Homo sapiens: one gene and its partners. The protein of the gene in region 1 interacts with the protein of each later gene in a pairwise test. Each region holds a gene or a part of one and is shown in the gene's direction. Other genes may lie near its edges. The genes, in order: SH2D1A, ARHGEF7, ARHGEF6 and SLAMF6.

Evidence for each region.
Region 2: the proteins of SH2D1A (region 1) and ARHGEF7 interact in binary tests that used the Homo sapiens proteins (3 or more experiments, as listed by UniProt).
Region 3: the proteins of SH2D1A (region 1) and ARHGEF6 interact in binary tests that used the Homo sapiens proteins (3 or more experiments, as listed by UniProt).
Region 4: the proteins of SH2D1A (region 1) and SLAMF6 interact in binary tests that used the Homo sapiens proteins (3 or more experiments, as listed by UniProt).

What each region holds. Positions count from the first base shown.
Region 1 is NC_000023.11:124,349,002-124,357,169, forward strand, and holds part of SH2D1A (SH2 domain-containing protein 1A), read left to right. Parts: intron 1-8,168.
Region 2 is NC_000013.11:111,110,235-111,118,661, forward strand, and holds the start of ARHGEF7 (rho guanine nucleotide exchange factor 7), read left to right. Parts: upstream 1-5,075; 5' UTR 5,076-5,292; coding exon 5,293-5,457; intron 5,458-8,427. UniProt on the Homo sapiens protein: Acts as a RAC1 guanine nucleotide exchange factor (GEF) and can induce membrane ruffling. Functions in cell migration, attachment and cell spreading. Promotes targeting of RAC1 to focal adhesions. May function as a positive regulator of apoptosis.
Region 3 is NC_000023.11:136,679,496-136,687,663, reverse strand, and holds part of ARHGEF6 (rho guanine nucleotide exchange factor 6), read left to right. Parts: intron 1-1,840; coding exon 1,841-1,987; intron 1,988-4,819; coding exon 4,820-4,906; intron 4,907-5,695; coding exon 5,696-5,774; intron 5,775-6,787; coding exon 6,788-6,933; intron 6,934-7,991; coding exon of another isoform or gene 7,992-8,003; coding exon 8,004-8,129; intron 8,130-8,168. UniProt on the Homo sapiens protein: Acts as a RAC1 guanine nucleotide exchange factor (GEF).
Region 4 is NC_000001.11:160,512,504-160,520,671, reverse strand, and holds part of SLAMF6 (SLAM family member 6 isoform 1 precursor), read left to right. Parts: intron 1-8,168. UniProt on the Homo sapiens protein: Self-ligand receptor of the signaling lymphocytic activation molecule (SLAM) family.

The sequences.
Region 1 (8,168 bases):
GCTTTAGACTTTTGCCTATGTAGGCCGGAACCACATGAGGAATTAACTTAGGCAGGTGAGAAATTATCAAGCATTTAAGTTTTCGCCCAAAGTGAATCTTGCATAAATGCAGTTTTTATGACTCTTAGTTCTCCATGAAAACCTCCTTGTGAAGTAGCGGAAAATACTAGACAAATTGGGAGTTCCCTTACGGTGTCTTTCAAATGGTACACTGGGGCCTCAAAGTCTTATGTGACTGTTAGGGTGATAGCCAGAATGTGCTGCAGAGGGAAGATATGAGGATACATTGCCTTTTATCAGTTTCTCAATGTTTTTGAGTTGAGTGTCCCTTTTGATAAATGTAAAAATTTCATTCCCTCTTTTTGGTGCTACACTGTAATTATAAAATCAGATTTTATTTAGAAATAAACCACGTACTCATTTTAAACCAGAACACTTATGATATGCAGTCGAAATAACAATATAAGTGGTATCATATACACATGGACAACAAGGTATAGCTGACAAACATGCATTGATTGTAGGGTTTACTCAGAATGGTTTCTCATTCTATCTTTTGTTTACTCCTATTAACCAAGAAGATTTAATTGAGCTATAGTTTTTATATTTTTATTGTAGAGATAATACATTTCATATGCCTTCAAACTGTACTTTAAACTGTACTTTCAAACGATGCTTGCCCTTTTCCCCAGTTCTGAACCTCCTAATCATGGCTTTCAGATATGGCCTTTTCTTCTGTTCTGATTTAGAAAATCGAAAATTGAACTGCTTCATAAAGCACTAAAGGAGTTTTCCATTTATAGGATTGCTCACCTTCATTTTAAGTAATAAGTATTTCTTTCAATTACTTTCTCTAAATAAATATAGATTTTTGTATAAGTCTATTAAAAATAGTTCCTTATACCTATTCATTATAGAAAATTTGAAACATATAGATAATAGAAATTAGAGAAAAATCATCTATAGTTTTATAACCTAAAGATGACTATTGCTAAAAATTAGGTGAATTTTCTTCTATATTTTAATAAGATGAATTGCTTTTTGAGCACGTGTGCTCTTACAATTGTATTCTTACGAGTGACGTATTTGACTACTAAAAAGTTTGATTTTTGTATGCGTCAAAAAAAGTAAGGGCAAACACCAAATGTTATATATTTATATATATATAAATATCTAATATATATAATATATAAATATATAATATAAAATATATAATATATAAATATATATTATATAATATTATATAATATATAATATATAAATATATATTATATATAATATTATATAATATATAATATATAAATATATATTATATATAATATTATATAATATATAATATATAAATATATATTATATATAATATTATATAATATATAATATATAAATATATATTATATACTATATATAATATATAAATATATATTATATACTATATATAATATATAAATATATATTATATACTATATATAATATATAAATATATATTATATACTATATATAATATATAAATATATATTATATACTATATATAATATATAATATATACTATATTATATATAGTATATTATATACTATATTATATAGTATAATATAGAATATATTATATATTGTATATAAGATAATATATTATATATTGTATATAAGATATAATATATTATATATTGTATATAAGATATAATATATTATATATTGTATATAAGATAATATATTATATATTGTATATAAGATATAATATATTATATATTGTATATAAGATATAATATATTATATATTGTATATAAGATATAATATATTATATATTGTATATAAGATATAATATATTATATATTGTATATAAGATATAATATATTATATATTGTATATAAGATATAATATATTATATATTGTATATAAGATATAATATATTATATATTGTATATAAGATATATTATATATTGTATATAAGATATAATATATTATATATTGTATATAAGATATAATATATTATATATATATTATAAATATGTATATTTTTATATATTATTATAAATATATATATTTTATATATATTATTATAAATATATATTTTTATATATATTATTATAAATATATATTTATATATATTTATATATAAATTTACATGTGTTAAAAATATGATTGTGTTCTTGTATTCTTACAATTGTATACGTTTCCCATTTCCCACTTAATATGAAAAAAATACACTCATATGTAATGTTCTTAGAGACAACTTTAAGATGTTATTTTTAATGGCTGCATGGTAGTCCAGCTAGCTAGTAAGTATACCATATTTTGCTTAGCCAGTCACCTACTTTTAGACATTTGACTCATTCCATATTTTTGTTATTATAAATTCCATCAGGATGTATATTTCAGTACATTAAAGTTTCCTTGCATTTATGATTATTTCCTTAGAATGAATTTCCAGTGTGGAATTTCTAGGTCAGAAAACATAAACAGCTTAGGATTCTTGATATATACATGATCATGAGATATTTTCCCTAAATGGTTATTCCAATTTACATGCTCACCTGTAATGCATCAGTGTCCATTTCACCACACCCTCACTAGAAGTGGGTATTGTAGTTAAGAAAATTTTCCCTTGACATTTGGCCTGTTATTCTTTATTTTATATTTACACTCTATCTCTTTATTTTCCACATTTTATATTCCTTTGGTTAGTGACTGTCATTTTATATGGTTGTTAAGCTGTTGTATTTCCTCCCATGATTTGGCTTTTTGTGTATTTTTCTCATTTAACCAGTTGAATCATACTTTTTTTAAACACACTCTATGTGTATATATATATATGTGCACTAATCCTTGATCTATTGCAAGGTATCCTTTCGAAGTTTGGTGTTTGCCCTTACTTTTTTGACACATACAAAAATCAAACTTTTTTAACACATTGTAAATTTATATATATACTAATCCTTGATCTGTTGCAAGGTATGTTTTCTAAGTTTGGTGTTTGCCCTTACTTTTTTTGACACATACAAAAATCAAACTTTTTAGTAGTCAAATACGTCACTCGTTTTCTTTGTGTTTGATTTCTTCCTTGGCTAGAAAGTCCTTTCCCCTTGAGATATGTCATAAAACTTCACTGCAGTTTTTGTTTTAAATTACGGTTTTGTTAGTTTACATTTACCTCTTTAATTCCATTTGGAGTTGTATTTTGATGTGGATAAAAGATCTAATTTGATTTTGTTTCCAGATAGCTAGCAATTGTCCTAATATAATTTATAAATACAACTTCCATTCTTCATTGATTTGCTAGCCGACTTTACCATATATTAAATTCTTATATATAACAGTTACTGTTTCTGGACTATCTATTTGTCTCAATTGATCCATTTATTCTTGCACTGATAGCACTATAGTATGATAATGTTTTAATATATTTTAAAAATTATTTGCTATTCTTATCTGTTGGTTCTTCAAAATGAAATCTAGAATCATTTTATTAAGTTAAAAAAAATTCATTGGACCAAATGTTTTAGCTCTCACATGCCAGTGAGAACACATGATATTTGTCTTTCTGTGCCTGGCTTATTTCACTTCACATAATGACTTCCAGTTCTATTTACATTTCTGCAAATAACAGGATTTCATTCTTTTTAATGGCCAGATAGTATTCAATTGTATATGCATAGCACATTTTCTTTATCCATTCATCTGTTGCTGGACTCTTCTATATCTTGGCTACTGTAAATAGTACTGTGATAAATGTATGGGCGCAAGTATCCCTTTGATATATTGATTTCCTTTCCTTTTGATAGATACCCTGTAGTGGGATTCCTCAATCATATGGAGATAGAGAGTAAAATGATAGTTACCAGAGGTTGGGAAGGGTGGAAGGCGATGAAGAGAGGTTGGCTAATGGGTACAAACAGACAGTTAGATAGAAGAAATAGGTTCTAGTGTTCAGTCGCACAGTACGGTGACTATAGTTAACAATATCTTATGTATTTTGAAATAGCTAGAAGAGAGTACTTGAAATGTTCTTACATATAGAAATGATAAATGTTTGAGGTGATAAATATCCTAAATATTCAAATCCCCTGATTTGATTATTACAATGCATACATGTGTTGAAACATCACACTGTACCCCATGAATATGTACAATTATTATGTATCAAAAATTTTTTTGAAAACACCATTGGGGTTACATTAAATTTATTAATAAACTAAGAATGAATTGTCATCTTTAAATAATTTAGTCTTCCCTTCCCATAACATAAGTCTCTCCATTTATAATTTTTTTGTTTATATCCATCAATCAAGTTTTATAGTTTTCTTTTTGTATGTCTTATACATTTTTTGTTATTTCGAGTTATTGTGTGTATGAATGTGTATGCTGATTTTTAAAAATCATAAATGGGATCTGTTTCCACTATATTTTCTGTTTCATAGGAAAGCTACTGATTTTATGTTCTGTTCTTGTATTTATCCAGTGTACTGAATGCTCTTATTAATGCAGATAGTTTTTTTTTTAAGTTTATTCCCTTTGTTTTTTTTAGATACATCAAGTTTCTTTTCACTGAGGTACATATGTTCTCTCACATTTCTTCCCTTCTCACCCTCAATGTAGACAGCCATTGGGAAAGTTCTGACTGCCCAGTGGGATTGATGGTGATAAGACGAGAACTAATTTAAAATATTTAAAATAATTAGCTCAAAAAATAGTTTATTTCCATAGTTGGCATCCTTCTGGACATATCTGCCTTTGTTTGCTACTTATCTGATGGAAGATTTGGAAGAAGAAATGCTGTTATAATTCTTTAGCTTCAAGGACACATAATGAAGTCATTTGACATGTATGTCTTTAGATAAATGCATAATTATCTTTTTGTCCTTTAAGTTTTAAAGGGACAACTGGGAATAAAGTGCCTGTCAAACAACTGAACTGGAGAAATGGGGGAGGAGCAGTGATGAAATAAAATTCCAGTTTATCAGTTGCAATAAAGGGGAACAGTGTGGCAAAGAACTTGAAATTATAACTTAACTTCATTTAGTGAGAAATTACAACTTGCATTTAGTTTTTGAATTCAATTGGATATGTGCCTTGGTGCCACATTTATCTTCATGATAACTTAGGCCACCAACATTATTTTCAATTTCCTGAATACAATCCAGTGGTAAAGTGAGCCTGAAAGCCAGCCTAGGATTGTTTGCCACATATAAACCACCGAATGGATAATTCACGGCAAATAAGCCAAGTACTGACTCTGGTTGACAATGTAAAATTAAAGTTGCAAGATTAGCCTGAAGATGTCATTTAGCTTAAGCAAAGGGGGAGTCTGGGTTGATCTCTTTCGGGCTCTCCCCACCTGGCCTCTTCCCTTCAGCTCCCTCCACTGCCCTCCTTCTCTCAGTGGACAGTTCTAGCTCCATGTCCAAGCAGATTCCCTCCCTTTTTGAGAATTGTGCTTTTGGAATTGTCTTAAAGACCAATTTGTTAATACATTCCCTCTAGTATAAGAGAGGGGCAGCACAGAATGGTGGTTAAGAGCCCAGATCTTCCAGCCAGATCTCTGGGTGTGCATCCCAGCTCTGACCCTTAACTAGCTATTTTCCCTTGGGCAGGTTACTTTAACTTTCTGTGTCTCAGGTTTCTTACCTGTAAAACGGCAGATGGTGATAATGAGAGTACTTACCTCACAGGGTTGTTATGATGATTATGACATGAGTTAATATTTGTAAAGTTAACATGTAATATGTGTTTTTTAATATGAATAAAAGCTCTATAAATAATTGTAATACAAAGTTAGAACATCATAAGTATACGTAAATAAAACTTGATATGGAAGTTCAGGGGAAGAAGTGGTTATATTTATTTTCATGACTCATCAAAATATCACATAGTTTTACCATCACACTTGAAGTTGAATGACTTTCAACTGTTTCAAAAATTAAAATTCTCTCTGAAAGAATAAAGTTTGGGCCATTGTAAGTTTGGAAAGCTCTTGAATCAGAGTATAGTCTCAAAAATAATGGCTTTGTGTAGGATACTATTCCTCTGGATATAAAAGTTCTGAAACGTTTGTTAAAAATCATTATAGTTGTGTCTTGAATTTTGTATGTAGCATTAGTTCGTATAGACGTAGAGGGCATAGGTACTGGCTTGCTTTATTTGAAATGTCATGAAGAAGTCAGATGTAGCTAAATGTTTTCTTTTGTGTAGTACTTGACGTGGTATAAAAAAGGAATTGATGTGGATTTGTCAGTTCTAAACCAGGATCTGTCCCCAACACTGACCCACTGAGAAAATAAGAAATAAGTCAGGTTGGTTGCTTCTTGCTTCTTGTCCATTTCTAACCTGGACACTTTTTTACAGTTAGGGACAACTTTTGATGAAATAAAGACAAATTTCAATATCAGCAGAGACTAGATTAACACATGCTTTATAGTAATTAAAATAAATTAAAGGCAATGATAAAACTCCACCGTTCTTTAACAATTATTCATGTTCTGATTTTTTTGGTGATACATTTTAAACTCTAGGATTATCAAAAAGTCCAAAAAAGCTTTAATGAGGGAAGGAAGTTAAAAGTACACTACATTGCTGGTTTGTCTGTATTAAGGGAGGGAGTCAGAGGAAATATAATCCTGAAGGGGATGTAACAATTTAAAAAAATGAATTACATTTTTATGAGTTGTGATTTGCTTAGGCTAGGTTTGTAAGGCTCCAAATTGTAATTCTGCTTGTTTTTCTTAAAAAATTAGTCACTTAAATAACTACATGAAAAAATAACATGCAAGAATGCATTTACGTTAGTTTAAATTTACTTCTAGTTTATATACACACAGGGACAGACAGTTTTGAATAGTTGTAATCAGAGTGGCATCCCCTTGTGCCCACTTTTTACACATACTGTCATTTTATTTTTTTATTTTTATTTTTTGTTTTGTGTGTGTTTTTTTTAATACTTTAAGTTCTAGGGTACATGTGCACAACGTGCAGGTTTGTTACATATGTATACATGTGCCATGTTGGTGTGCTGCACCCATTAACTCATCATTTACATTAGGTATATCTCCTAATGCTATCCCTCCCCCCACCCCAGGACAGGCCCCAGTGTGTGATGTTCCCCTTCCTGTGTCCAAGTGTTCTAATTGTTCAATTCCCACCTATGAGTGAGAACATGCAGTGTTTGGTTTTCTGTCCTTGCGATAGTTTGCTGAGAATGATCGTTTCCAGCTTCATCCATGTCCCTACAAAGGACATGAACTCATCCTTTTTTATGGCTGCATAGTATTCCATGGTGTATATGTGCCACATTTTCTTAATCCAGTCTATCATTGATGGACATTTGGGTTGGTTCCAAGTCTTTGCTATTACACATGCTATCATTTTATGTCAACATAGTCCACATACTTAAAGTTTTCTGGAAAACCTAAGACTCTAACATTTTTGAATTTTGGCATAAGATTTTATTTGTTTATTTATTTATTTATATTTTTTGAGACGGAGTCTCTCTCTGTCGCCCAGCCTGGAGTGCAGTGGTGTGATCTCAGCTCACTGCAACCCCTGCCTTCCAGGCTCAAGCGATTCTCCTGCCTCAGCCTCCTGTGTGGCTGGGATTACAGGTGCGTGCCACCACACCCAGCAGTTTTTTGTTTGTTTGTTTTGTATTTTTAGTAGAGACAGGGTTTCACCATGTTGGCCAGGCTGGTCTCGAACTCCTGACCTTGTGATCCACCCACTTCAGCCTCCCAGAGTGCTGGGATTACAGGCGTGAGCCATCGTGCCCAGCCAGCATTAACATTGTAAACCTTCACCTTTGACATAGAAAGTGTAATTTTGAACCATTGTTTCTGCTATAATTCCTTTATTTTTCCCTAATTTATATATTTATTTCTAAACTGGCAAAATTGTATATATGTATTGTGTATGACATGATGCTTTGAAATATGTATACATGTGTAATAGCTAAATTGGGATAATTAGCATATGCATTACCTCACATACTTACATTTTGTGATGAGAACACTTAAAATCTACTCTCTTAGCAACTTTCAAGAATACAATACATTGTTTTTAACTATAGTTGCCACGTTGTACAATAGATCTCTTGAACTTTTTCCTCCTAACCTAAATCTTTTATCCTTTGACCCAAATTTCCCAATCCCCACCCTGCACGCCCCTACGAGCCCCTGGTAGCCACC
Region 2 (8,427 bases), on another chromosome or scaffold:
GGCCATGCAGAGGTGGCCCAGGGGAAGGCTGCAGGCATGGTGGGCTTGTGTCACAGCTAAGGGACTTCAAGCTTGGGCAACCCTAGTCTTTAAAGGCACTGCAAGCAAACCTGCTCAAACTCTCCCAGAGACAGACATTTTTTAAATCTACTGGTTGGCAAGCAAATTTGTCCTCTTCCCAAAAGGGGAACAGTATATCTACTTTCCAAGGCTGTTTGCTTTAAAAGACTTTTGAAAATATAGTCTGCAACAAAAGCTGTCATTACCTCTGCTCAGATATTCAGAAGTGGAAGAGACTCATGGAGAAAGGTCTCCCAAGAATTCCAAAAAGAGAAATTAAGAAGAGGGAAATAAGAAATTGAAATGTATCAAATGTGTTTTTCAAAGTCTGTGAATTCATAATGGTATTCAGAAAAATCACTGGTCTCCTCTGCAGGATGCTGGAGCACCAACTCGTGATGCTGAAAAGTGGTAAACAATGGAAAATGAGTGAGCATTTATCTTGCCTTTCCTGTAGGAACTACGTTTCAGAGTACACATATAGCTGATAAAGAACAGTACCTCTTGCAGAATTCTAGCTGAAATATAACTGAAGGACTTATCAAGATATGGCAATTCTGAATGAAACACTGAATCTAGTAGGAATTATGAATAGTTGCTGAAGCAAATAGATGATGATGGGTGGAATCATAATGGATGGATCTGGATAGTAACACCAGAATGCACCAATCGATCCTGCATCACAGAGATCCCAGGACACCACGTTCCTTCTGAGTGATGATAGTAAGTTCCACTTCCCCTTCCTCTCATGTAATATTTCTGGGGCAGGGTCCTGATTTCTCAAAGGGCACTATTGGGAGTAAAATTGTCCACCAAAAGATATGTTGAAATCCTAACTCCGAGTACCTGTAAATGCAACCTTATTTAGAAATAGGTTCTTCACAGATACAATCAAGCCAAGATGAGGCCATCCCAGATCAGAGTGGGTCTTCACCCAGTGACTAGCATGCTTATAAGAAGAGAGAAATTCAGACACTGACACAGAGAGGGAGAAAAGTCCATGTGAACACAGAGGCAGAGATTAGGGCGATTTATACCCAGTACAAGGAGGTTCCCTTGGATGGCTGGCCACCCACAGAAGCTGGGAGAGAAACCTGCAGCAGATTCTCCCTCTGGGCCCCAGAAAGAACCAATCCTGCCCACACCTTCACTTCAGACTTCCAAACTTCAGAAATGGGAGAGAATATATTTCTTTTTATTTGAGCCGCCCAGCTTGTGAGACTTTGTTACGGCCTCTCCCAGAAATGCATAGGCCCCAGTAGGACTGCAGCCCAGGTTCCCGTAGCAATAACCTGCCAACAAGGCAGCCTTGTGTTTAGCTTCTCCCCTTCCCTGTCCCATCGTCCCATTTTCTCCTTTGTGCTTTTCATGGTCACTTCCCAAATAGGCAGCCTGCACTGAAGCCCTGGCTCAGGGTCTGCCTTCGGGGACAGGAGGGGACAAACCAAGGCAGATGGTATCAGAGGGGACCTTGGAAAGCAGATGCCCAGGGGGAGAATCCCAAGACACATCTCTCCCCAGCCAGATGGCACGGCCTTAGGACACTGTGTCAGTCAGCGTTCTCCAGAGAAACAGACCAATAGAATCTCTTTCCATTGACCAACTGATCAATTGGGAGAAAGGGAGACAGAGGGAGGGGAGAGAGACTTATTACAGGGAAGCAGCTCATGTGACTATGGAGGTGGGCACATCTGCTCTGCAGGGGGCCCACAGGCTGAAGAACCAGAGAAAATCCTCCCTTACTTGGGGAAGGTCAGTCTTTTTTTCTATTCAGGTCTTCAACTGATTAGATAAAGCTCACCACATTGGGGAGGGCCATCTACTTTACTCAAATGTTCATTACATCCCAAAACCCCCTTTCGCAGACACACCCAGAATAATATTTAACCAAATGTCTGGGCACCCTGTAGCCTCGTCAAGTTGACACATAAAACTCACTGTCACAGATGCCATTGTTGATGCGCCATGAGTGGCAATCTCCCACGCCCATTCTGCACCATCACAGTGACTGTGCCGCTCACCTGTGCGGAACTGGCATGTGGAGCAGGTGCGGTGGAAGCGCTGGCTTATGAAATAACGCTAATGCCTGCAGTTGAATTGTCCCCCAAAAGATACGTTGGGCTCTGCTGAATCAGAGGTCACTGGTGGGGGAGCCCTCAATCCAGAGTCCATGGGTAAAGTCAGCCTTCCTGCCCTCTGGCCAGAAGGTGCTGAGACCTGTTCCACTTGTTTCTCAAGGGCCCCCCAGGGGAACAGAGCCCTAGTGCTCATTTTCACCCCTTGACTCCCTTACCTGCTTCACTCCCCTTCCTCACTGTCCTTCCTGGGGTCACTCCCTAGCAAGCCACTTGCACCCAATTTGTGGGCTCAGGGTCTGCTTCTGGGGGAAACCCAACCAGGAGAAGCGTCTTGTTGGCATCATGTTTCATAATATACTATACTGGTCAAATGCTTTCTGATCCTGCATACTCCTCCAGCCATATGTGTTGATAAATTAATGTTTCCTGCCTTGCATCTTTTAATTTTAGCATTTGATCATATTTATCCCAAATGAACAGGACCTTGTTTCATACAATAACACACAGCAGATACAATGAGCTGCATAGAGCCACTTCGTAGTGCATTCTCCAATCTAGACAGGGTCCAGTTGGATAAGGGTAGTTCTACAGGGAGTGATTACTACCCACTCTAGGTAAATGGTCATCTGATTGTCCAGCTTAAGTTTGGAGTGAATTTTGCCTTATTTTTTAGATTTTGGCATTTTTATAGTGACCCCACACACGCTGAGTTGGCAGGGTTCAGCTGAGCTTTGGGTGGTAACTGGTTTGCAGTAGGGTTTGTGCGTGAACTCCTAACAGTGATGTGGAAGGTGCCTACCAGGCACTAGCAAGCAGCCAAGCTGGGTGTGAGGCTGACATTCTCTCATTAGAAACGAAGGAAGCGAAGCCACAGGCTTGCGTGGAAAGCCATTCTCCACCTCTTGAGGCAAGTCCAGAGGAGAGCCACAGAAAGGGCTAAACTTCCCCTTAGACAATAGTCTTAACTCGAGCTAACCCAATAGCCCAAAAGTGATGGGCACCAGATTGCACTCCGCGTGGCCTCTGTAATAGGAACCTGGAAAAGTGCTAAGGAAAGTTTAACCAAAATGCCCACTTTGGATACTAAAACAACTCAATTAAGCACCTAAAAATATCTAGCTTTGAGCAATGTTACTTTCTAAAATCCCTTCCAAGTAAACTCTTTTTCTGAAATTAATAAATACCCAACATAAAAGAACGCAACTAGTAACCATAAAGTGTTTAAAAGTCTGGGCTTCTCCCCACCAAGAAAAGACGAGTTGTAATACCTGGACTGTGGGTCTCCAGTCCGACAAGAATTGGCTCTCTGCTTCACTGGTCTCGTAAGGTCACTCCCTAGAATTGGCTTTCTATAGGACCATTTAATTGAGTCTATTTGAATCTTACTCAAGTCTACCACCTTATAAGTATCAAACCGAATTTAGTAGGATTCGAAATGGTAAGGACTGCATTAAATTATTTCTCTAATTCAGCAGTAAGGAAAGTGAACAGAAGTCTCGGTGTACAACCACGCCCCGGGTTGACATCTTTCCTTCCACGAAGACACTGGGTACAAGCCTTGATGTAGCTGTTAATTGCCCTCCTGTTTCCTAGAAAGCTTATAGGGCAGCAGTAGGAAACGGGTTAGGTATGCCTTTCCTGGTAGGAGCCGAGCTTTGGGTCTTATCTCTGCCACTTGTTCGGCATCTGATCAGTAAAAGGGGACCATGATGGGAGGCGAGGCAGTAGACAGCACTTTGTGACGGTTCCTAACCAGTCGCTGTTATCACTGAGCACATTGTCCTCGTAATCCAGAATTCATACTGCCATTTGAATATTTTTTGTATTTGCAAAGAAAATTTTAACCACTTAACTCAAGGCTAGAAATAAAAGCAATTAGTGATTGCAAGAGAAATCCACCGGCAGAAGGCAGGGGGAGACGACTTAAGCCTCTGATTATTTTTGGAAGCTTTATATGCTTTCTAGCCTTTGTCATTGAATGGATTAATGTATGTGCCTGGCATAGACTAAGTGCTTTGCTTGTTAAACTGCCCGCGGGTCATAGCGAGCAAACTGGGGGAGCGCCCAGGGACAGTGGATGGAGTGAGTGGAGACTCGTGTCCTTTTAAGAAGAGGCTCCATTTCTTCCTCGCATGTCAATGTGTGCGTGTCATCAGTTGTTCGAGGAAGCTCGCGCATGACGCGACACTTGCCGTCTGGGCTCTCCAGGTTCGGCCTGCTGCTTTCACAGCCCAGATCTTCGGCGTCCCCGAGACGCAGCCAGGCGCCCGGCCCGGCCCGGCCCGGCCCTCTGCACAGCCCCACTTCAGGCCACGCCGTTTCCTTGACCTTCCCCCGGCAGGGTCTGAAGCGTCACCGTCCGTCTAGAGCAGAGTCGCGCAGGCCCCTGCCCTGCCGGTGAGGTCGGCGCCGCGCTCCGGAGAGTCGGTTCCTCCCGATTCAGACCCATATGGCTTCAGATGGAACCATCATTTCTGTTCCGTCATGACCGGCTTGCAAGGTAGCAAAGCGAAACAAACGTCTCGTTTTCAGCCTGTCCCCGCCACCTTGAAATAAAACCGGCAAAAATAAAAAGAGCATTCTGGGAAGTACTTCATCATTTCAACGCTCACGAATTCAAAACATAAACAAAGGCTTCCGAGTGCCCCGGCCAGGGGCGCGGGGCGCACGGCGGGCCCGGGGCAGGTAAGCGCAGGTGCGCGCCCGCCCCCACCCCCGGCTCCCTCCCCATCCGCTCCCCGCTCCCCTTCCCCTTTCCCTTCCCCGCCCGCTCCCAGCCGCCGCCGCCGCCCCGCGCACGGCCTGGAGCGGAGGCTGCGCAGGGCGCGGGGCGGCGCGGGCCGGGCGCGGGCCGGGCGGACGGCCGCGTCTTTCTTCTCCTGGCGGTGATGTCATTGGGCGACGGCGGCCGAGGCCGGGGGGCGGCGGCGGGCGCCCGCAGGTTCCCGAGCCGCTCCTGAGAAGGCGCCTGACAGCGGGCCGGGGCGCACGGAGAAGCGGGCCGGGCCGGACCTGCTGGGCCGCGCCGAGCCAATCGCCGGCGCCGGCCGCTCGATGGGCGAGGCGGCGGCGGCGGCGGCGGGGGCCGCGGGCCGGGCCGCCGCTCCGAGGTGAAGGCGCGCGCCCCTCCCCGCCTGCCTCCCGGGCCGCAGCGATGAATTCCGCCGAGCAAACCGTTACGTGGCTCATCACTCTGGGGGTGCTGGAGTCGCCCAAAAAAACCATCTCGGACCCGGAGGGCTTTCTGCAGGCGTCGCTGAAGGATGGGGTGGTCCTCTGCAGGCTGCTGGAGCGCCTGCTCCCCGGGACCATCGAGAAAGTAAGTCCCGGCCCGCGCCCCCGCCCGCGCCCCCCGGTCCGGCCCGCTGCGGCCCGGGATGCGCGCGGAGCACCTGAGGCCGGCCGCGCTCGGGAAACCCGTGCGCCCTCCTTTGTGCGCGGAGCGGCGGCGCGGCCGGCGCCAGGACCGTGGCGGGAGCTCGGGGGGCGCCATTGTGTGCGGGGCAGGGGGAGGGGGCCGGGGAGCGGGGTCGGGGGGAGGGGCGGCGCGGGCGGCGGGGGTCCCCGGGAAGGAGAGTGCACCGCAGCGAGGAGACGGGGCTTCTGCGCCGCCCGAACGCTAAGTTGCCCCTCCGCGTGGGGGGCCGGCCCCGCTCCCTGGCAGCAGCCGCATCGGAAACCGCGTTCCGACGCGGTGCGGCTCACTCCGCTGGCTTTGTGTGGACAGTTCTTGCCGGTGGCGTTGCGTGAGTTTCGCCTCCCAGGTTAATTGACCGGTTGCTCTGTATTTTTAAAGAGGCACGCATCTGTAGCTGAGGGCTGCGCTGTGAAACGATCTACTACTTTCCCCTCGAGAAAATTCCCCACCTATCCGAGCCGAGAGGACGGCAGACACAGGGTCTAAGTCCTGGCACTCTTCAAGGCTTGTTAAAATTCTAGATTTCGTTCTCAGGTCCCTCCCTCGTTCTGAACAGAACCTTTAGTCCTGCAGGCACTGCTTCTCCCTTCCGGCTGGTGGTTCCCAGGCTGGAGCGTGTGAACCCTGACCCGAATCTCTGGAAGTGATTAAAGTTTGTTTTCATCGCCCACAAGCCGGCCAGCAGGGCCGAGGAGGCAGGAGAGTTTCTAAAAACGATGTCTCCCTGTAGCTCAAAATACTAAAATCTTATTCCCAGGGTGTTTCTTCGGGGGGTGGGGTGGGGGTGGGGGTGGCCAATATATAGCGTTAAGATCAACAGTTATTTAAAAGGTGTTAAATATAGAAATTGAAGTGTACCATAATTAGGAAGAAGGATTTCAGTTTTTAAGTGGGGTGTATTGGCCCCCATACAGGATGACAACAACTTGTAAATAAAATGCCACGTAAGTGACTTGAAAAAGTAAAATGTTTAATTTTTTTCATTCACATGTACATATTCTCTTGCTACATTTTAAATGAGGTCAGAAAACATTTTATTTAATATGAATTTGGCTTGCATTCCACTTTTAGCTATTTTTCTTACTTGGAACATCTTTATGAAAACAGAATCTGCATATTAGAGTGAATGGCTGCCTGCCTGTCCATGAAATAAAAATGTTCCTTAAAAATGAACCTGATGTCACAGTGAAATTATGATTTAAGACAGGAGGACTGAGGAGCAGGAGCTGACTTTCAAGGCATTCAAAATACTTTGCTGTTTGGATACTGGTACCTCTGGTAATGAAAGACAGATGTTGAAAAGTGTTGAAATGCATGCAAAGTTCACCAAAATAGGCTTAAATAAAATTCTGTTCCATCCCTAAGAGCAAAGCTTTAAGAAGTGTCATATGCTGTATTGATAAAAACATGTCGCCATCAAAGAATATGTTGTTTGGCATATTAACTGTATTAATATTGATTGGCCGACTTCAATAATCATTTTCTTTTAAATTATAGAAAGATTTTCCTAGAAAACCGTAGCGTTCATTTCATCTCTAAAACAACAAAGAGAAGAACGAATAAAATGTTGAGCTTGCAGAAGCCAAGTTGAAACAACTCAACATATTCTAAAACTACAGTCATCTGGAAATTTCTTAGGTCAGAGCTGTTTTTGATTCCCCCTGAGCTCCAGTTGGTTTGTGTTAAACTGACTCTGTCACAATGAAAGTTTAATGTGAAGGCAGCGTATTGTAGACACAGTTACTGGTTCTCTGGAGTTCAAAGGTAGGTTTTTGGAGTAAAATATTAGCCGTTTTCTGCCTCTGAGATCCCTGTGTTTCAGAAGTTTTGTGAGCTTTTTCCATTTGCTAGGCAGAGTTATCTGGGTTTCTTTCTTTCTTTTCTTTTTCTCTTTCTTTCTTTCTCTCTCTCTCTCTGTCTCTCTCTCTCTTTCTTTCTCCTTCCTTCCTTCCTTCGAGATGGGTTCTTGCTATGTTGGCCAGGCTGGTCTTGAACTCCGGGCCTCAAGGGATTGTCCCATCTAGGCCTCCCAAAGTGCTGGGATTACAGGCGTGAGCCACCACGCCCAGCCAGTTATCTGGGTTTTTGGTGTTTTCATGCTTACCAGATAATCTATGCCACAAAGCACACATGCTGAATAACTTTTACTTAAATGTGGGAATGTGAGTCTGAGGATGTTTTTTCCTTAAAAAGAAGCATTTGGAAACTTAACTGAATGTTCATGTGGACATGACAGGGGCTTCGCTTGACCTCTGCTGCAGGAGTGCCCTGACAGCCAGTGAGCGGAGGGCAAGTGGCCTGCAGCCTTCGCCTCTGCAGGCTCACAACCTGGCATGGGCCATGAGGCTGGGGATGAGGGCAGAACTAAAACGTGGCTGGGTGCCTCGGGCTTCCCATATGTCTTTTATTAAGAAACCATGCCCTAATGTGTTTCTTCCATTACGCTCATTTGTTCTGTTTCAGAGTTAGGAAGAGGGTGGAGGGAGCAGAGAGGACGTTCACGGCGTGTCAGATTCTTCTGCTCATTTAAAGGAAACTTTCCACCCAGGTTCCCGCTTTGCTTTTAAGGTGGAAGGTTAGACAGTGAGAAGATGGAATTATAAACTTTACATGAACAGTTCAGAAAAGAGACACTTTTCATTATACTGGACAGATGTTTTCTGCTGTAGGGGAGAGGAAAATGGGATTAAAAAGTTTTCGCCTTCTCTGTATCTGGAGATCCTGCACTTTGGTTTTCTCCAGGAGGGGTCAGGATGTTTGGCTGGGCTGCCCATGTCTTCGGCTTCCCACACTCCTCCCGTGAGCAGAGGTCATGACGTCTAGGGAGCCCTGGAAGCCCTTTTCTCACAAATTCACTTTAAACATCCCTAG
Region 3 (8,168 bases), about 12 Mb from region 1:
GTTTCCTTTTGTCTCTTTGTCTTTACCCCCATTGCTCACCTAATGACGAGTCTGTGTAACTCATCATTCACTGATTTGCATCAATACTGGATTCAACTAGTTATGCCAAAGGGTATGAGTTTTTTCTTTGCATATGAAGAAGAAATCCTTCATCAAATCTAAAAGGGGGGAAAAAACCTAAAGAACTAAAATGCAAGTGCTTTATATAGGTTGCTATCAAAGGTACACGTGATCTTGTATCTTCAGTATGATGGTTAATGTATCTTCTTGAACCCACTGATATAAAACCACTTGGTGCCATTTTAGGAGGAAAGAAAACTTCATTTTGGGCAATTGATTAAACTTAGCTTCATTTCACACAATTCTGTAGCATTATAAGTGATTTGGACTAATGTTTAATTATTAATCCTTGTTGAAAGATCAGTAATTGACGTGTCTGTAGTTGAACAGTAAGTTGAAGACCAGAGTAAGTATTAGATTAAAATTGCCATTGTTATATGCCAAAAACAGTCCAATATTGGCAGTTTTACATGGCGCAAGCTAATAGAACAGCCCAGTGAAACCCACAGCATTTATTATAATTATGGTTCTTCTATTTTTTCTTGTATAAATAGGAATGTAAAATGAGTCTTTTTAAAAACCTGTATTTCTTTCTGATTATATTATATAACTTGCCTTGATGGTTTAGTATATTTATTCCTACTATAGGTGCTCTTAAAATATGTGTACAGTGAATTTATTTCTTTGAGTTTCCATGTAGCTGAAAGGGACAGCAGAGATTTTATAGAAAATATAACCCCAAAATATTATCTTACATTCATTTGGAAACAGTAACAGAACTAACCATGTGCTTATTTTTGTATTCAATTTGGAAGGCATGCTGTTAAATTACTCTAAGATAACCTCACAGTTTCTTAAGCAGTGAGATATATATATATATATATATATATATATGTATATATATATGTGTATATATATATATGTGTATATATATATACACATGTGTATATATATATGTGTGTATATATATATATATATGTGTATATATATATATATATATATATATATACACACACATACACACACATATATATAGAAAGAGTATTCATACCCCACATAGTGTTGGCAAACTGTAATTTTTTCTTGGTTTGAAATTTCAGTATGTCATCATGAAATTCAGTTGTATCTCTTTTTTCCAATCCTTTTAGGAATAAAAACTAATTTAGTATTTTTTTCACAGCAATCTTGGTCCTTAAACAAAGTACAGCAGTGCCTAGGTTTCATTATAAGTTTGATTCACTGTGGCATAAAGAATTTAATTTTCTCTTTCACTATAACTCCAGGAGAAATTTTTTGTTTTTTATTATTTTCAAGATGTTACCTTGTTGAAAATTGAGCATATGTTAGAAATACAATTATTTTGTCACTAAAGCCCTATTTATGCAAAGATAGACAAGGTAAGAGGAGCTAAAGCAGGGGCACCAACCAGTAGATCTGAATCTACCAGGTCCTCACCTGGCTCTGGTCAGTGTGATTTGGCTGCTTGCTTTCCCATATTCTTTACAGGGAGGGAGAAATAAGCTCTTTCTAGCATTATGTTTTGATGCTTTGGCAAAATGAAAAATAGGCCTTCCTCACAAAACCTTTGGGGGCTCAAGCCTAGAGATTTAGGGTAGTGGATCTTTCTGTCTATCAAGAACAGGCCTGGGTCATGGGATTCATGATGAGGAATAGGGACTCAGTGGGAACCAAAGAGTCAGAAGCCACATCTTACTTTGGTCTTATTTTAGTCTATTTCATAAGAATTCCTATTCCATTATGTTCTGCTTTGGTTCTGTAGGGGCAATGTCAAGATCTGAGGAAGAGAAAACAGCTGGAGTTACAGATACTGTCCGAACCTATTCAGGCATGGGAAGGAGAAGATATTAAAAACTTGGGAAATGTGATTTTTATGTCACAAGTAATGGTGCAGTATGGAGCATGTGAGGTAAGGTATTTCAAATCTCAACATTATTTCTTCCATCTTTCGTATTTTTCTTCCTTTTTTTTTTTTTTTTTTGACGGAGTCTTGTTCTGTCACTCAGGCTGGAGTGCAGTGGTGCCATCTTGGCTCACTGCAACCTCTGCCTCCTGGGTTCAAGCAATCCTCCTGCCTGAGCCTCTTAAGTAGTTTTTCTTCCTTGTTCTTCCATCAAAGTCAAATGCTACAACATTCAAATCAGAAGCTGAGCACCTGTTCTTTGTTGAACATTCTGCTAGGTGCTGTGGGAGATAGGAGAAAAGAACAAGCAATGATCCCTGTTTTCAAAGAACTCATTAAAAACAGACTAAAACACAAGTTGCAACTAGCTGACAAACCAAATAGTCAATGTTCGATTTTGCAATCTCAACAAGAGTCCATAGAAGTTCACAGGAGGGAGAGATCAAGAAGACCTTACGGAGACAGGACTTGAGGAGGGGGCACAAAAACAAAAGGGGAGGATTTCGCAAGGCAGAGGTCATTGTTATCTTAGGAGAGAACAGAAATGTGGCTTTGGTTTGCTGCAGCACAGTAAGGAAACCAGCCTGTAGGGAGCAAAAGAAGCAACTTGGCCCTAGTAAAAGATTGATTGAGTCAGGTAGAATTAGACTATGCAGAAGCTTGACATCAGGCAAGAGTAGTTCAGATGGATGCAACAGGCCATGGGAAATAATGAAAGAGTCCACAGTCATAGAACAACACTCCGAAAGGGATGTTTCACACTAATCTGCGACCTATATATGTCAAATGAACTGGAGGGAATGGACGAGAAGCAGAAAGGCCAGCTGGGATGGAAAGTGAGAAGGAGTCCCCTAAGACGGTGGTAACACTGGGAATGGAGCAGAAGGAGCAAATTGGAGGCATCTTTAGAAGGGAAAGCCAACAGGAAGTGGTGCCCCTGGGTTAGAGGAGATGAAGAATATAATTTTAGACCTGTAGATATCTGGGTGGAGATGTCCCATAGGCAGCTGTTAATGTAGTATGGAAATGTGAGTGAGAGGTCAGAGTTAGAGGCAGAGACTTAGATGTCCCTAACAGATGTGCCTTCCTAGGAAGTAAATATCCAGAGAGAAGCCCGGGGGGTGGGGGGAGCTGAAGATGGATTATTTCTTTTAGGAAGGAGCCAGGGAAAGGGAGAAAGGTTGATTATGGCACCTGGTTTGATGTATCGGGTGTTAGAATTGTCTTCCTTCTCCCAAAACATCTTCCTACGCTCTCTGACACGTCTTTGGCGGAGATTCATTACTTTGGGTTAATAAGCAATCTCATTTAAAATGCAAATACCCCAGGGAAGGTTACTGCAGTGAGTCTAACTATTAGTCATTCACACCTTTGGGATAAACCCCTTGGGTGAAGGCAGGAGGAATCAGTGCCAGAAAAAATAAAAAGACAAAGAGGAAGGTAGAGAAGAACTGGGGGAGCATGGTGTCATGGAAATTCCACGAGGAGCATTTGAAAATGGCCAGTGTGCTGACTGCTGCTGAAGGTTCAGAGGGCAAGGAATGTGAAGACCAAGAGGAAGCCATTGGATTTTGCTAGAAGGCAGTTACTGATGACTTTCCAAGAGCAATGGGGGTGCAGTTAGGGATGGATCAATGCAGAGAAAATGAAGGCAGCAAGTAATTTGCCAATAAAATGTCAAGAAATGGGATATTATGCATAAAGGGCCACATGGGGGCAAGCCAAGGTCTGTTAGGATAGGAGGTGTACATATGTTAAAGAAAAAGAGGAACAGCTAGTAAAAGAGAAGAGGATGCTGGGAGAAGAAGAGGTGTCTGTAGAGGAAAACTAAGTGAAACAAAGATGTGAGAGAATGTGGAGCACTTGTTAGAATAGTTAGCCTGGAAGGGTTGCTCTTCTCAAATGGAAGGAAGGAGATGGAGACAGGCATAAGGATAATTGTAGCTAAGATGGCTGGGCATGGAAGGCAAACGTAATTTTTGCGTATACTAATTGCATATCTGTTGAAGGGGCTCACAGCAGCCCTCACGTTTCAAGGTTTCCTCAGTGCCATTAAAAAGTGTATGGGAGGCTGAGGTGGGTGGATCACCTGAAGTCGGGAGTTTGAGACCACCCTGACCAACATGGAGAAACCCCATCTCTACTAAAAATACAAAATTAGCCGGGAGTGGTGGCACATGTGTGTAATCCCAGCTACTTGGGAGGCTGAGGCAGGAGAATCGCTTGAACCCGGGAGGTGGAGGTTGTGGTGAGCCGAGATCGTGCCATTGCACTCCAACCTGGGCAAAAAGAGCGAAACTCCGTCTCAAGAAAAAAAAAAGAAAGTGTATCTACTTTTATGTTTTACATAAATCCAATAATTATCTTGTTCTTAATGACCAAAGCTAATTTTATGAATACGACTTTAACAAACATGTTAGAGCATACTAAATCTCTTATCACCTGAAAACCCCTTCATCTTGCCATTTTTTCAAAGTAAAATATATTTTCATTTTGTGAACCTGGAGACTTATTTTGTGCCCAGGTCTAGCACATCTCACTGGCTGCATAAACTGTGGTGACTTCTCAGGCTTTCATACATGGAAAGCAAGCATGGTTATTTGTATTTAATTGTTATGTATAAGAAGAAGAGAGATAAACTGTGGGTTTATGTCCATGTCAAAGTAAAATTCAACTAGTTTTGTGTTTTCAAGTTGGGTATCTTTTTTAAAAAAAAAATTACCGTTAATGTTTCAGTTGTTTATATAAGGTCTATGTTATAAGGCAGTGATTCCAGAAATTCTCAACAGATAAAGTGTCCAATTCTGTTCTTCATGTATTATTTTCATTCCCTCTCAGGAAAAAGAGGAGCGGTACCTTATGTTATTTTCAAATGTCCTGATAATGTTATCTGCAAGTCCTCGGATGAGTGGCTTTATCTATCAGGTTAGTAAATTTCATATAAAACACATAGCAGACCCCCTAACGAAAACAGGTTTCCATCCAGATGCAATATCTCCACTATGGCATTAAAAGCTCAAGCCAGGAGAACCAGAATGTTCTGACCCTTCATTGTAATTAAAGAGCTTGTAAGAGCAGATGTTCCTTAGATCAAAGACCTTTGTATTAGTATAATGAGTTTATCTTGAATATATCCACCGCTTTAGTTATGCACTAGGTTTTGCATGCATAAATGGAAACTAGATAAATTAGCAGCAGTATTGTACAGGCCCATGTCATTATTGCTGAGAAAACATAAAGCTGGGACCTGCTCCTATGTTTGTCTTATTATAGTCACAGCACATGATTCAGGCTTCTAAGAAGCATGTTATTAAACTCCTTAGGAAATTAAATGTCCCTCAGTCAGCTCCCAACATATAGAGTATTATAAGTTACTATTGCCTGTTCCATCTTGGCCTGGCAATTAATAATTTTCATAACATCTGAGCCTTCACTTTTTTTTACTGATTCTTATGAAAATGTGTTAGAAAAGTAAACTGCTTTGTAAATCCTGATCTTATAGTTTAGGGTGTGTTAGCCAAACACAATCCACATTTTCCCCTTGCTTTCTTAGTCTGATTAAAATTTAGAGCAGGGAAACATATTATCTATTGACAGACTGGAGAAATACGTCTAGCCATAGTTTTGCCTTGCTGAGAGGGTCAGAAAATCTAAGTGAAATAAACAGAGACCTGTATAACTGCAGAATTAATGAGAATGTTCTTTTTCTAATAGGGAAAAATACCAATAGCAGGAACGGTGGTGACTAGATTAGATGAAATTGAAGGGAATGACTGCACATTTGAAATCACTGGTAGGTAATTTTCTCTTTTTCATGTAACTACTTCCAATTCTTTTTGGAATGAAGGGGAATTTAATAAATAAATGCCATTATTTCCTGTTACATAGGCCACGAGCAAATTTTATGCGGGCATGGCAAAGTATATTCCATTTCCTGGGATAATTAGGGTACAGCAATAGCACAGAGAAGTCTCCTCTCATTCAAAAGCCATGGCTTTGCCATTAGTTTCAATTTTCTGTTGCATGAGAGCTACTTGTGAGAGCTAAGGAATAACGAAATGGACTGATGTAAACGCAATTTTCTTCCCCTCTGTCATTTGTTCCCTGGTGGCAGAGGAGCCAAAGATATGGACTTTTATCAGCAATTTTATCATCAGCCCATGAGTTAGTAAGATTTGGTTGTATTTCTAAAAAGTTCTGAAAAGCCATCAAATTTTCTTCACAAATTGAGCATAATGCCAGGCTTCAGTAATGCCCCCTGACATTTTAGCTTATGATCCCTTTTGCCAGGTCTGTGTCATTTATATGTAGTGGCCTGACTGTTGGTGCTGATATGGCACAGTGGCTAAGACTGGGATCATGGCCTTACCCTCTTCTTTCCCAAGAAGGAGCTTAAGGTTTGGTGTTTGCCAAAAGGTTGTAAATAGTCTTAGTTGGATCTTGTTCCAACTTTGATACCAGGGGAACCAGGACAATATTCCCACTTTAGACTTAACTAGATGGACTATGTGCTTATGTTTTTGGATTGCAAGTTTGTTTATGGTGAAGTTTTACACTACTTTTAAGCTTCTGTAAGCAGTAAAAATCAAGGACAGTTTTCTAAATCAGACATGAATATTTATTTACTTTGTAATCACAGGTTATCTGTTTCTGATATAGAAATTTCAGCAGGGTTATCCCATAGGTATGAAAACCCCTGAAAATACACACCCAAGTCCTAGTTGTATGAAGTCTATTTATGAATGGGACAAGCTCAAGTTTTTCCTTGCCTTTTGTTTTCAAACTGATCATAATTGGGGGATGTAGGTAACACAGTGGAGAGAATTGTGGTCCATTGTAACAACAACCAGGACTTCCAGGAATGGTTGGAGCAGCTGAACAGACTGATCAGAGGACCTGCCTCTTGCAGTTCATTATCCAAAACCTCATCGTCATCATGTAGTGCTCATTCTGTAAGTAGTCCATGTGTTCTGTCCAGAGATTATTGAGTCTTTCGTCAACTCCTGCCTGCTGGAGACTTACAAGAAGCAGCGAGCACACCCTTAGTCTTTTGGGCAGCCTATATTTGTAGATTTTGAAGTACAGTTAAACCTCACTCATTCTGATTTCTCATTATGAGGCCCATCCAAATTAATGAAAAGGTTTACTTAGAGTGTGCAGTTCTGTTTGACAGTATTCAGATACCCCAACTAACTGCTAGCAAAGTATTTCTAACCAGAAGTCCTGCTAAAATATTTTAATGATAAGCAAGGCTTATTTCCATGAGCAATGGTTATTCTCCTACTAACAGTGGGCTAAGTCGAAACAAATAGTTTACCTCCCTAAGTACTTAAACATCTCCATGTCATCTCACTCATGCTCTCACATTTGCTCAGTAACCTTCTTCAAAGGTAAACTTTTAGCATTATCTCCTTCTGAGTTATCACAAATTTAGACATTGGAATTTGAATTGATGAGATTTTACTGTACTTGCTGAGTGAGATGGAAGATATGCTGTGTTGTTTGTTAACATACAAACCTATGATGCCAAAATTCCAGTTTTGAGGACTGTGTGTTGTGGTTGGAAGAATATGGACTTTGGCTTCAGATCTGGGTTCAAATCTTGGCTTTGCCAATTACTAGTTAGTTGCTTCCCTTGACTGAGTCTATGTCTTAGGCTGTTCTCATGAAATAACCTATTTAAGCACCTACTAGAGTGCCAAACATATCACTGAACTCAAATGTTGACTGCTACTCCATTTTCCTTCCTTACAGAGGAAAGAAAATTAAATTAATTAAATTCCAGATGAGAAAGAGAGGACAGGATCATGGAATGTTGAGTCAATTTTGTGCTGTTTCTTAGAGACCCGATAATCTGGACTGGAAAGAACCAGTTCTCAAACTAGAGACTTTTGTTTTTCCATCTATCCCTTTCTATGGCTGTCTTTGCTAATCCAATGAAGCTATTGTTGTTCTCTCACTGTGTGGCACAAGGTCGGGTTCAGATGGCAGATTGCCAACATCTCATCAGACATTTTCCCAGTCTTTTAGCTCTACCGGACAGCCCCGAGGACCCTTGGAGCCTCCTCAAATTATAAAACCGTGGAGTTTAAGTTGTCTACGACCTGCACCTCCACTTAGACCATCAGCAGCACTAGGTTATAAAGAGGTAATTTTGCTACCTATGGTATAAAATGCTTCTGACAAG
Region 4 (8,168 bases), on another chromosome or scaffold:
CTCAAGCCCTGGGTGGCAAAACTAACAGAACAAAACAATAATTGTAAATAAAATCAAGCATCATGACTTCCTAGAGAAAATAAATCTCGTTTGTTTCTTCATTTTGATTTTTATAGATGGAAAGTTGGAAATTTGTCAAACTTAAATGTGCATATAAATTACTTGGGGGAATCTTATTAAAATGCTGATTGGGGAATAGGGACTGAGATTCTGCATTTCTAAGAGGCTCCCAGGTGACACCAATGCTGCCTGTCCATGGACCACACTAAGCAGCAAGGTTCTAAATTCCAATGGACTTCAGTCATACTGGGATTGTAGGGAGGAAGAAATAGAAACTAACTTTGAGTGTGTTTGCAGGAAGCAGATATAGGTATTCTGAGGTCCAGGAGAGAGCAGTGGTTGGAAATGTAAGTAAAGCAAACACATGAGGGCTGATTCTGAGGTTGAGTCAAAATGTGCAATGCTCTTCTGTGAAGAGATTGTGACCTGATGGCCCCCGAGCAGTGTTATCTACTTTTTACCAACCGTCCACATCTTTCAAATGTTTATTGTGCTCAACAGGCAGAGAGCTGTTTTATATTTTTTCATTATCCTCAGACACGTGTTTTTCCACCTCTCAGAATCTGCAATCTCCAATGTGACCTCCAGGTGTTCATGCCTCTGTTTTTGGTCCCTTAACCCAGATTCAGCTTTGATTGTTTCTCTGTTCACACTCAGACATTTTTTATTAAGGTGAAATTCTTGTAACAGGATGTAATAATTTTAAAGTGACATTTTGTACATTTTGTGAAACCACCACTTCTATTATTCTAAAACATTTTCATCACCCCAAAAGGAAACCCTGTACCCACTAAGCAGTCATTTCCCATTCTCCCCTCCCCCCCAGCCCCTGGCAAATACCGATCTGCTTTCTGTCTCTGTGGGTTTACCTATTCTGGATAATTTCATATAAATGAAATCACACAATATATGACCTTTCGTGTCTGACTTCTTTCACTTAGCATCATGTTTTCCAGGTTCACCTATGCTGAACCATGTATCAGTACTTCATTCCTTTTTGGCTGAATAGTATTTTGTATTCTGTATATACTACATTTTATTTATCCATTTATCTATCAGTGGACACCTGGGTTGTTTTTGCCTTTTGGCTCTTGCGAATAGTGCTGCTATGTGTACAAGTATTTGACTACCTGTTTTTATCTGGGTATATACCTAGGAATGGATTTGTCAGATCATATAATTCTATGCTTAACTTTTTGGGAAATTGCCAAACTGTTTTCCACAATGGCTGTACCATTTTACATTTCCACTAGCTGTGTACAAGAGTTATAATTTCTCCACATCCTCATCAACACTTGTTTTTTTCCTTTTTAAAAAGATTATTATCACCATCCTAATAGGTGTGAAGTGGTATATTATTGTGGTTTTGATTTACATTTTCCCAATGACAAATGATTTTGAGTATCTTTTTAAGTGTTTATTGGCCATTTGTATATCCTCTTTGGAGAAATGTCTATTCAAGTCCTTTGCCCATTTTAGTTGAATTATTTGTCTTTTTGCTATTGAGTTATAAGAGTTGTTTATACATTCTTGGAACCAGACCTTTAATACATGACCTGAAAATATTTTCTCCCATTCTGTAGGTTGTCTTTTCACTTTCTTAATAATGTTCTTTGATGCACAAAAGTCTTTAATTTTGATGAAGCACAATTTACCTATTTTTATCTTTTTTCTTTTTTATCATTTTATTTTAAGTTCCAGGATACACGTGCAGGATATGCAAGTTTGTTACATAGGTAAACATGTGCCCTGGTGGTTTGCTGCACCTATCAACCTCACCTAAGTATTAAGCCCTGCATACATTAGCTATTTTTCCTGATGCTCTCTCTCCCCCCTGCCCCACCCCCGACAGGCCCCAGTGTGTGTCATTCCCCTTCTTGTGTCCATGTGTTCTCATTGTTCAGCTCCCACTTAAAGAACATGCGGTGTTTGGCTTTCTGTTCCTGCATTAGTTTGCTGAGAATAATGGCTTCTGGCTTCATCCATGTCCCTGCAAAGGACATGATTTCATTCCTTTTTATGGCTGCATAGTATTCCGTGGTGTATACGTACCACATTTTCTTTATCCGGTCTATCATTGATGGGCATTTGGGTTGATTTCATGTCTTTGCTATTATGAATAGTGCTGCAATGAAGATACACGTGCAATGAACATGCACATACACATATCTTTATAACAATGATTTATATTCTTTTGGGTATATACCCAGTAATGGGATTGCTGGGTCAAATTGTCTTTCTGCCTCTAGGTCTTTGAGGAGTCCCCGCATTGTCTTCCAGAATAGTTGAACTAATTTACATTCCCACCAACAGTGTAAAAGAGTTTCTATTTCTCCACAGCCTTGCCAGCATCTGTTTTTTCTTGACTTCTAAATAATTGCCATTCTGACCTGTGTGAGATGGTATCCCATTGTGGTTTTGATGTGCATTTCTCTAATGACCAGTGATGTTGAGCTTTTTTCCATGTTTCTTGGCCACATAAATGTCTTCTTTTTTTTTTTAACACCTGAAGAGTAAGTTTAATGGAATTCATAGTTACAGATATTCAGAAAATATTTGTTGGGGGAACTAATTAATACATTTCTTTCTTTTAATTTTTATTTTTAGTTCTGGGTACATGTGCAGTATGTGCAGGTTTGTTACATAGGTAAACCTGTGCCCTGGTGGTTTGCTGCACCTACCAACGCATCACCTAGGTATTAAGCCCAGCATGCATTATCTATTTTTCTTAATGCTCTCCCTCCCCCAACCCCACTCCCCAAGAGGCCCCAGTGCATGTTGTTTCCCTCCCTGTGTCCATGTGTTCTCACTGTTCAGCTCCCACTTACAAGTGAGAACATGCAGTGTTTGGTTTTCTGTTCTTGTATGAGTTTGCTGAGGATAATGGCTTCCAGCTTCATCCACATTCCTGCAAAGGACATGATCTCATTCCTTTTGATGGCTGCATAGTATTCCATGGTGTATATGTTCCACATTTTCTTTATCTCGTCTGTCATTGATGGGCATTTTGGTTGATTCCAGGCCTTTGCTATTGTGAATAGTGCTGCAATGAACATATGCATGCATATATCTTTGTAACAGAGCGATTTATATTCCTTTGGGTATATACCCAGAAATGGGATTGCTGGGTCAAATGGTATTTCTGGTTCTAGATCTTTGAGGATTTGCCACACTGTCTTCCACAATGGTTGAACTAATTTACATTCCCAACAGTGTAAAAGTGTTCCTATTTCTCCAGAACCTCACAAGCATCTGTTGTTTCTTGACTTTTTCATAATCACTATTCTGTCATGAGATGGTAATTTATTGTGGTTTTCAATTGTATTTTTCTAATGATCAGTGATGTTGAGCTTTTTTTCATGTTTGTTGGCTGCATGAATGTCTTCTTTTGAGAAGTGTCTGTTAATGTCCTTTGCTCGCCTTTTAATGGGGTTGTTTGATTTTTTTCTTGTAAATTTGTTTGAGTTCCTTGTAGAATCTGGATATTAGACCTTTAACAGATGAATAGATTGCAAAAATTTTCTCCCACTCTGTAGGTTGCCTCTTGGCTCTGATAATAGTTTCTTCTGCTATGCAGAAGCTCTTCAGTTTAACTAGATCCCATTTGTCAATTTTTGCTTTTGTTGCAATTGCTTTCAGTGATTTCATAATGAAATCTTTGCCCATGCCTATGTCCTGAATGGCATTGCCTAGATTGTATTCTAGGGTTTTCATAGTTTTGAGTTTTACATTTAAGTCTTTAATCTATCTTGAGTTAATTTTTGTATAAGGTGTGAGGGAGGGGTCCAGTTTCAATTTTCTGCATATGGATAGCCAGTTCTCCCAGCACCAGTTATTAAATAGTGAATCCTTTCCCCATTGCTTGTTTTTGTCACGTTTTTTGAAGATCAGATAGTGGTAGATGTGCAGTCTTATTTATGGGTTCTCTATTCTGTTCCATTGGTCTATGTGTCTGTTTTGTACCAGTACCATGTACCGTGCTGTTTTGGTTATTGCTGCCTTATAGTATTGTTTGAAGTCCAGTAGCATGATGCCTCCAGCTTTGTTCCTTTTGCTTAGGATTGTCTTGGCTATATGAGCCCTTTTTTGGTTCCATATAAATTTTAAAATAGTTTTTTCTAATTTTGTGAAAAATGTCAATGATAGTTTAATGGGAATAGTAGTGAATCTATTAATTACTTCGGGCAGTATGGTCATTTTCATGATGTTGATTCTTCCTATCCATGAGCACAGAATATTTTTCCATTTGTTTGTGTCCTCTCTGGTTTCCTTGAGCAGTGGTTTGTAGTTCTTTTTGAAGAGGTTCCTTCACTTCCTTTGTTAGCTGTATTCCTAAGTATTTTATTCTCTTTGTAACAATTGTGAATGGGAGTTCATTCATGATTTGGTTCTCTGCTTGCCTGTGTGTGTTGTATAAGAATGCTTGTAACTTCTGCATTGATTTTGTTTCCTGAGATCTTGCTGAAGTTGCATGTGAGCTTAAGAAGCTTTTGGGCTGAGATGATGGGGTTTTCTAGATATAGGATCGTGTCATCTGCAAACAAAGATAATTTGACTTCCTCTCTTCCTGTGTGAATATGCTTTATTTCTTTCTCTTGCCTGATTGCCCTGGTCAGAACTTCTAATACTATGCTGAATAGGAGTGGTGAGAGAGGGCATCCTTGTCTTATGCTGGTTTTCACAAGAAATGCTTCCAGTTTTGCCCATTCAGTATAATATTGGTTGTTGGTTTGTCATAAATGTCTCTTATTGTTTTAAGATATGTTCCATCAATACCTGGTTTATTGAGAGTGTTTAACATGAAGGGATGTTGAATTTTATAGAAGGCCTTTTCTGTGTCTATTAAGATAATCTGTGGTTTTTGTCTTTAGATCTGTTTATGAGATGAATTACATTTATTGATTTGCATATGTTGAACCAGCCTTGCATCCCAGGAATAAAGCCAACTCGATCAGGGTGGATAAGCTTTTTGATGTGCCGCTATATTTGGTTTGCCAGTATTTTATTGAGAATTTTTGCATCAGTGTTCATCAGGATATTGGCCTGAAGCTTTCTTTTTTGTTGTATCTCTGCCAGGTTTTGGTATCAGGATGATACTGGCCTCATAAAATGAATTAGGGAAGGGTCCCTCCTTTTCAATTGTTTGGAATAGTTTCAGAAGAAATGGTGCCAGGTCCTCTTTGTACCTCTAGTAGAATTCAGCTGTAAATCCTTCTGGTCCTGGGCTTTTTCTTTTAGACTATTTATTACTGTCTCAATTTCAGAATTTGTTATTGGTCTATTCAGGGATTCAGCTTCCTCCTGGTTCAGTCTTGGGAGGGTGTATGTGTCCAGGAATTTATCCATTTCTTCTAGATTTTCTAGGTTATGTGCATAGAGGTGTTTATAGTATTCTCTGATGATTGTTTTTATTTCTGTGGGGTCAGTAGTGATATCCTCTTTTAACATTTTTTATTGTGTCCATTTGATTCTTCTCTCTTTTCTTCTTTGTTAGTCTAGCTAACTAGCAGTCTATCTATATTATTAGTTTTTCAAAAAACCAGATTCTGGACTCCTTGATTTTTTTGAAGCATTCTTCTTTTATCTATCTCCTTCAGTTCTGCTTTGATCTTGGTTATTTCTTGTCTTCTGCCAGCTTTGGAGTTTGTTTGCTCTTGGTTCTCCAGTTCTTTTAGTTTTAATGTTAGCATTTCAATTTGAGATCTTTCTAGGTTTTTGATGTGGGCATTTAGTGCTCTAAATTTCCCTCTTAACAGCTGCTTTAGCTGCATCCAGAGATTCTGATACATTGTCTCTTTGTTCTCATTGGTTTCAAAGAACTTCTTGCTTTCTGCCTTAATTTCATTATTTAACCAGGAGTCATGCAGGAGCAGGTTGTTCAATTTCTATGTAGCTATGTGATTTTGAGTGAGTTTCTTTGTCTTGAGTTCTAATTTGATTATGCTGTGGTCTGAGAGACTGTTTGTTGTGATTTCAGTTCTTTTGTATTTGATGAGGAGTGTTTTACTTCCAATTATGTGATCAATTTTAGAGTAAGTTCCATGTGGCAATGCATAGAATGAATATTCTGTTGTTGTAGGATGGAGAGTTTTGTAGAGGTCTATCAGGTCCACTTGATCTAGAGCTGAGTTCAAGTCCTGAATATCTTTGTTAATTTTCTGTCTGAATGATCTGCCTAATATTGACAGTGGATGTTAAAGTCTCCCGCTATTATTGTGTGGGAGTCTACATCTCCTTGTACGTCTCTAAGAGCTTATTTTAGGAATCTGCTTTTGTATTGGGTGCATACATATTTAGGATAGTTAGTTCTTCTTGTTGAATTGAACCCTTTACCATGCCTTTCTTTGTCTTTTTTGGTCTTTATTGCTTTAAAGTCTATTTTGTCAGAAACTAGGATTGCAATCCCTGCTTTTTTCTGGTTTCCATTTGCCTGGTAGATTTTCCTCTATCCCTTTATTTTGAACCTATGTGTGTGTTTGCATGTGAGATGAGTCTCTTGAATACAGCACACCAATGGGTCTTCACAATTTACCCAGCTTGCCATTCTGTGTCTTTTAAATGGGGCACTTAGCACATTTATATTTAAAGTTAGTATTGTTATGTGTGAATTTGATCCTGTCATCATGATACTAGCTAGTTATTTTGCAGACTTATTGATGTAGTTGCTTCACAGTTTCATTGGTCTTCATTGTGTACTTCAGTATGTTTTGTAGTGGCTGATAATGGCTTTTCCTTTCCATATTTAGTGCTTCCTTCAGGAGCTCTTGCAAGTCAAGCCTGGTGGTGGATGAATTCCCTCAGCATTTGATTGTCTGAAAAATATTTTATTTCTCCTTTGCTTATGAAGCTTCATTTGGCCAGATATGAGATTCTGGGTTGAAAATTCTTTTCTTTAAGAATGTTGAATATTGACCCCCAATCTCTTCTGGCTTGTAAAGTTTCTGCTGAGAGGCCTGATGTTATTCTGATGGGCTTCCCTTTGTAGGTGACTTGGCCTTTCTCTCTGGCTGCCCTTAACATTTTTTCCTTCATTTTGACCTTGAAGAATCTAATAATTATGTGTCTTGTGGTTGATCCTCTCATGGAGTATCTTACTGGGTTCTTTGTATTTCTTGAGTTTGAATGTTGGCCTGTCTTGCTAGGTTGGGGAAGTCTCCTGGATGATATCGTGAAGTATGTTTTCCAACTTTGTTTCATTCACCTGTCTCTTTCAGGTACCATAATCAGTTGTAGGTTCGGTCTCTTTACATAATCCCATAATTCTCAGAGATTTTGTTTGTTCCTTTTCATTCCTTTTTCTCTAATCTTGTCTGCCTATTTTATTTCAGCAAGATAGTCTTCAATCTCTTAAATTCTTTCCTCCACTTGGTCTATTCGGCTATTGATACTTATGATTGCATTGTGATGTTTTCATGTTGTGTTTTTCAGTTCCATCAAGTCATTTATGTTCCTCTCTAAGCTGGTTATTCTGATGAATAGCTCCTGTAATGTTTTATCCTGATTCTTAGGTTCTTTGCATTGAGTTAGAACATACTCCTTTAGCTCGGCAAAGTTCATTATTACCCACCTTCTGAAGCCTACTTCTGTCAGTTCATCCTTCTCAGCCTGAGCCCAGTTGTGTGCCCTGCTGGAGAGGTGTTACAATCATTTGGAGGAGAAGAGACACTCTGGCTTTTTGAGTTTTCAGCATTTTTTATTGATTCTTTCTCATCTTCCTGAGTTTATCTAGCTTTGATCTTTGAGTCTGCTGATCTTTGGATGGGCTTTTTGTGGGGACTTTTTTGTTGATGCTGTTGTTGTTGCTTTCTGTTTGTTTTTCTTTTAGCAGACAGGACCCTCTTTTGCAAGACTGCTGCAGTTTGCTGGGGGCCCACTCCAGATCCTATTCACCTGGGTCCCTCCCCACCCTGGTGGTGTCACCAGTGGAGGCTGCAGAACCGCAAAGATGGCTGCCTGCTTCTTCCTCTGGGAGCTCCGTCCAAGAGGGGCACCAAACTGATGACAGTGGGAGTGCTCCTGTATAAAGTGTCTGGTAACCCCTGCTGGGGAGTCTCACCCAGTCAGGAGTCACAAGATAAGGGACCCACTTAATGAAGCATTCTGTCTGT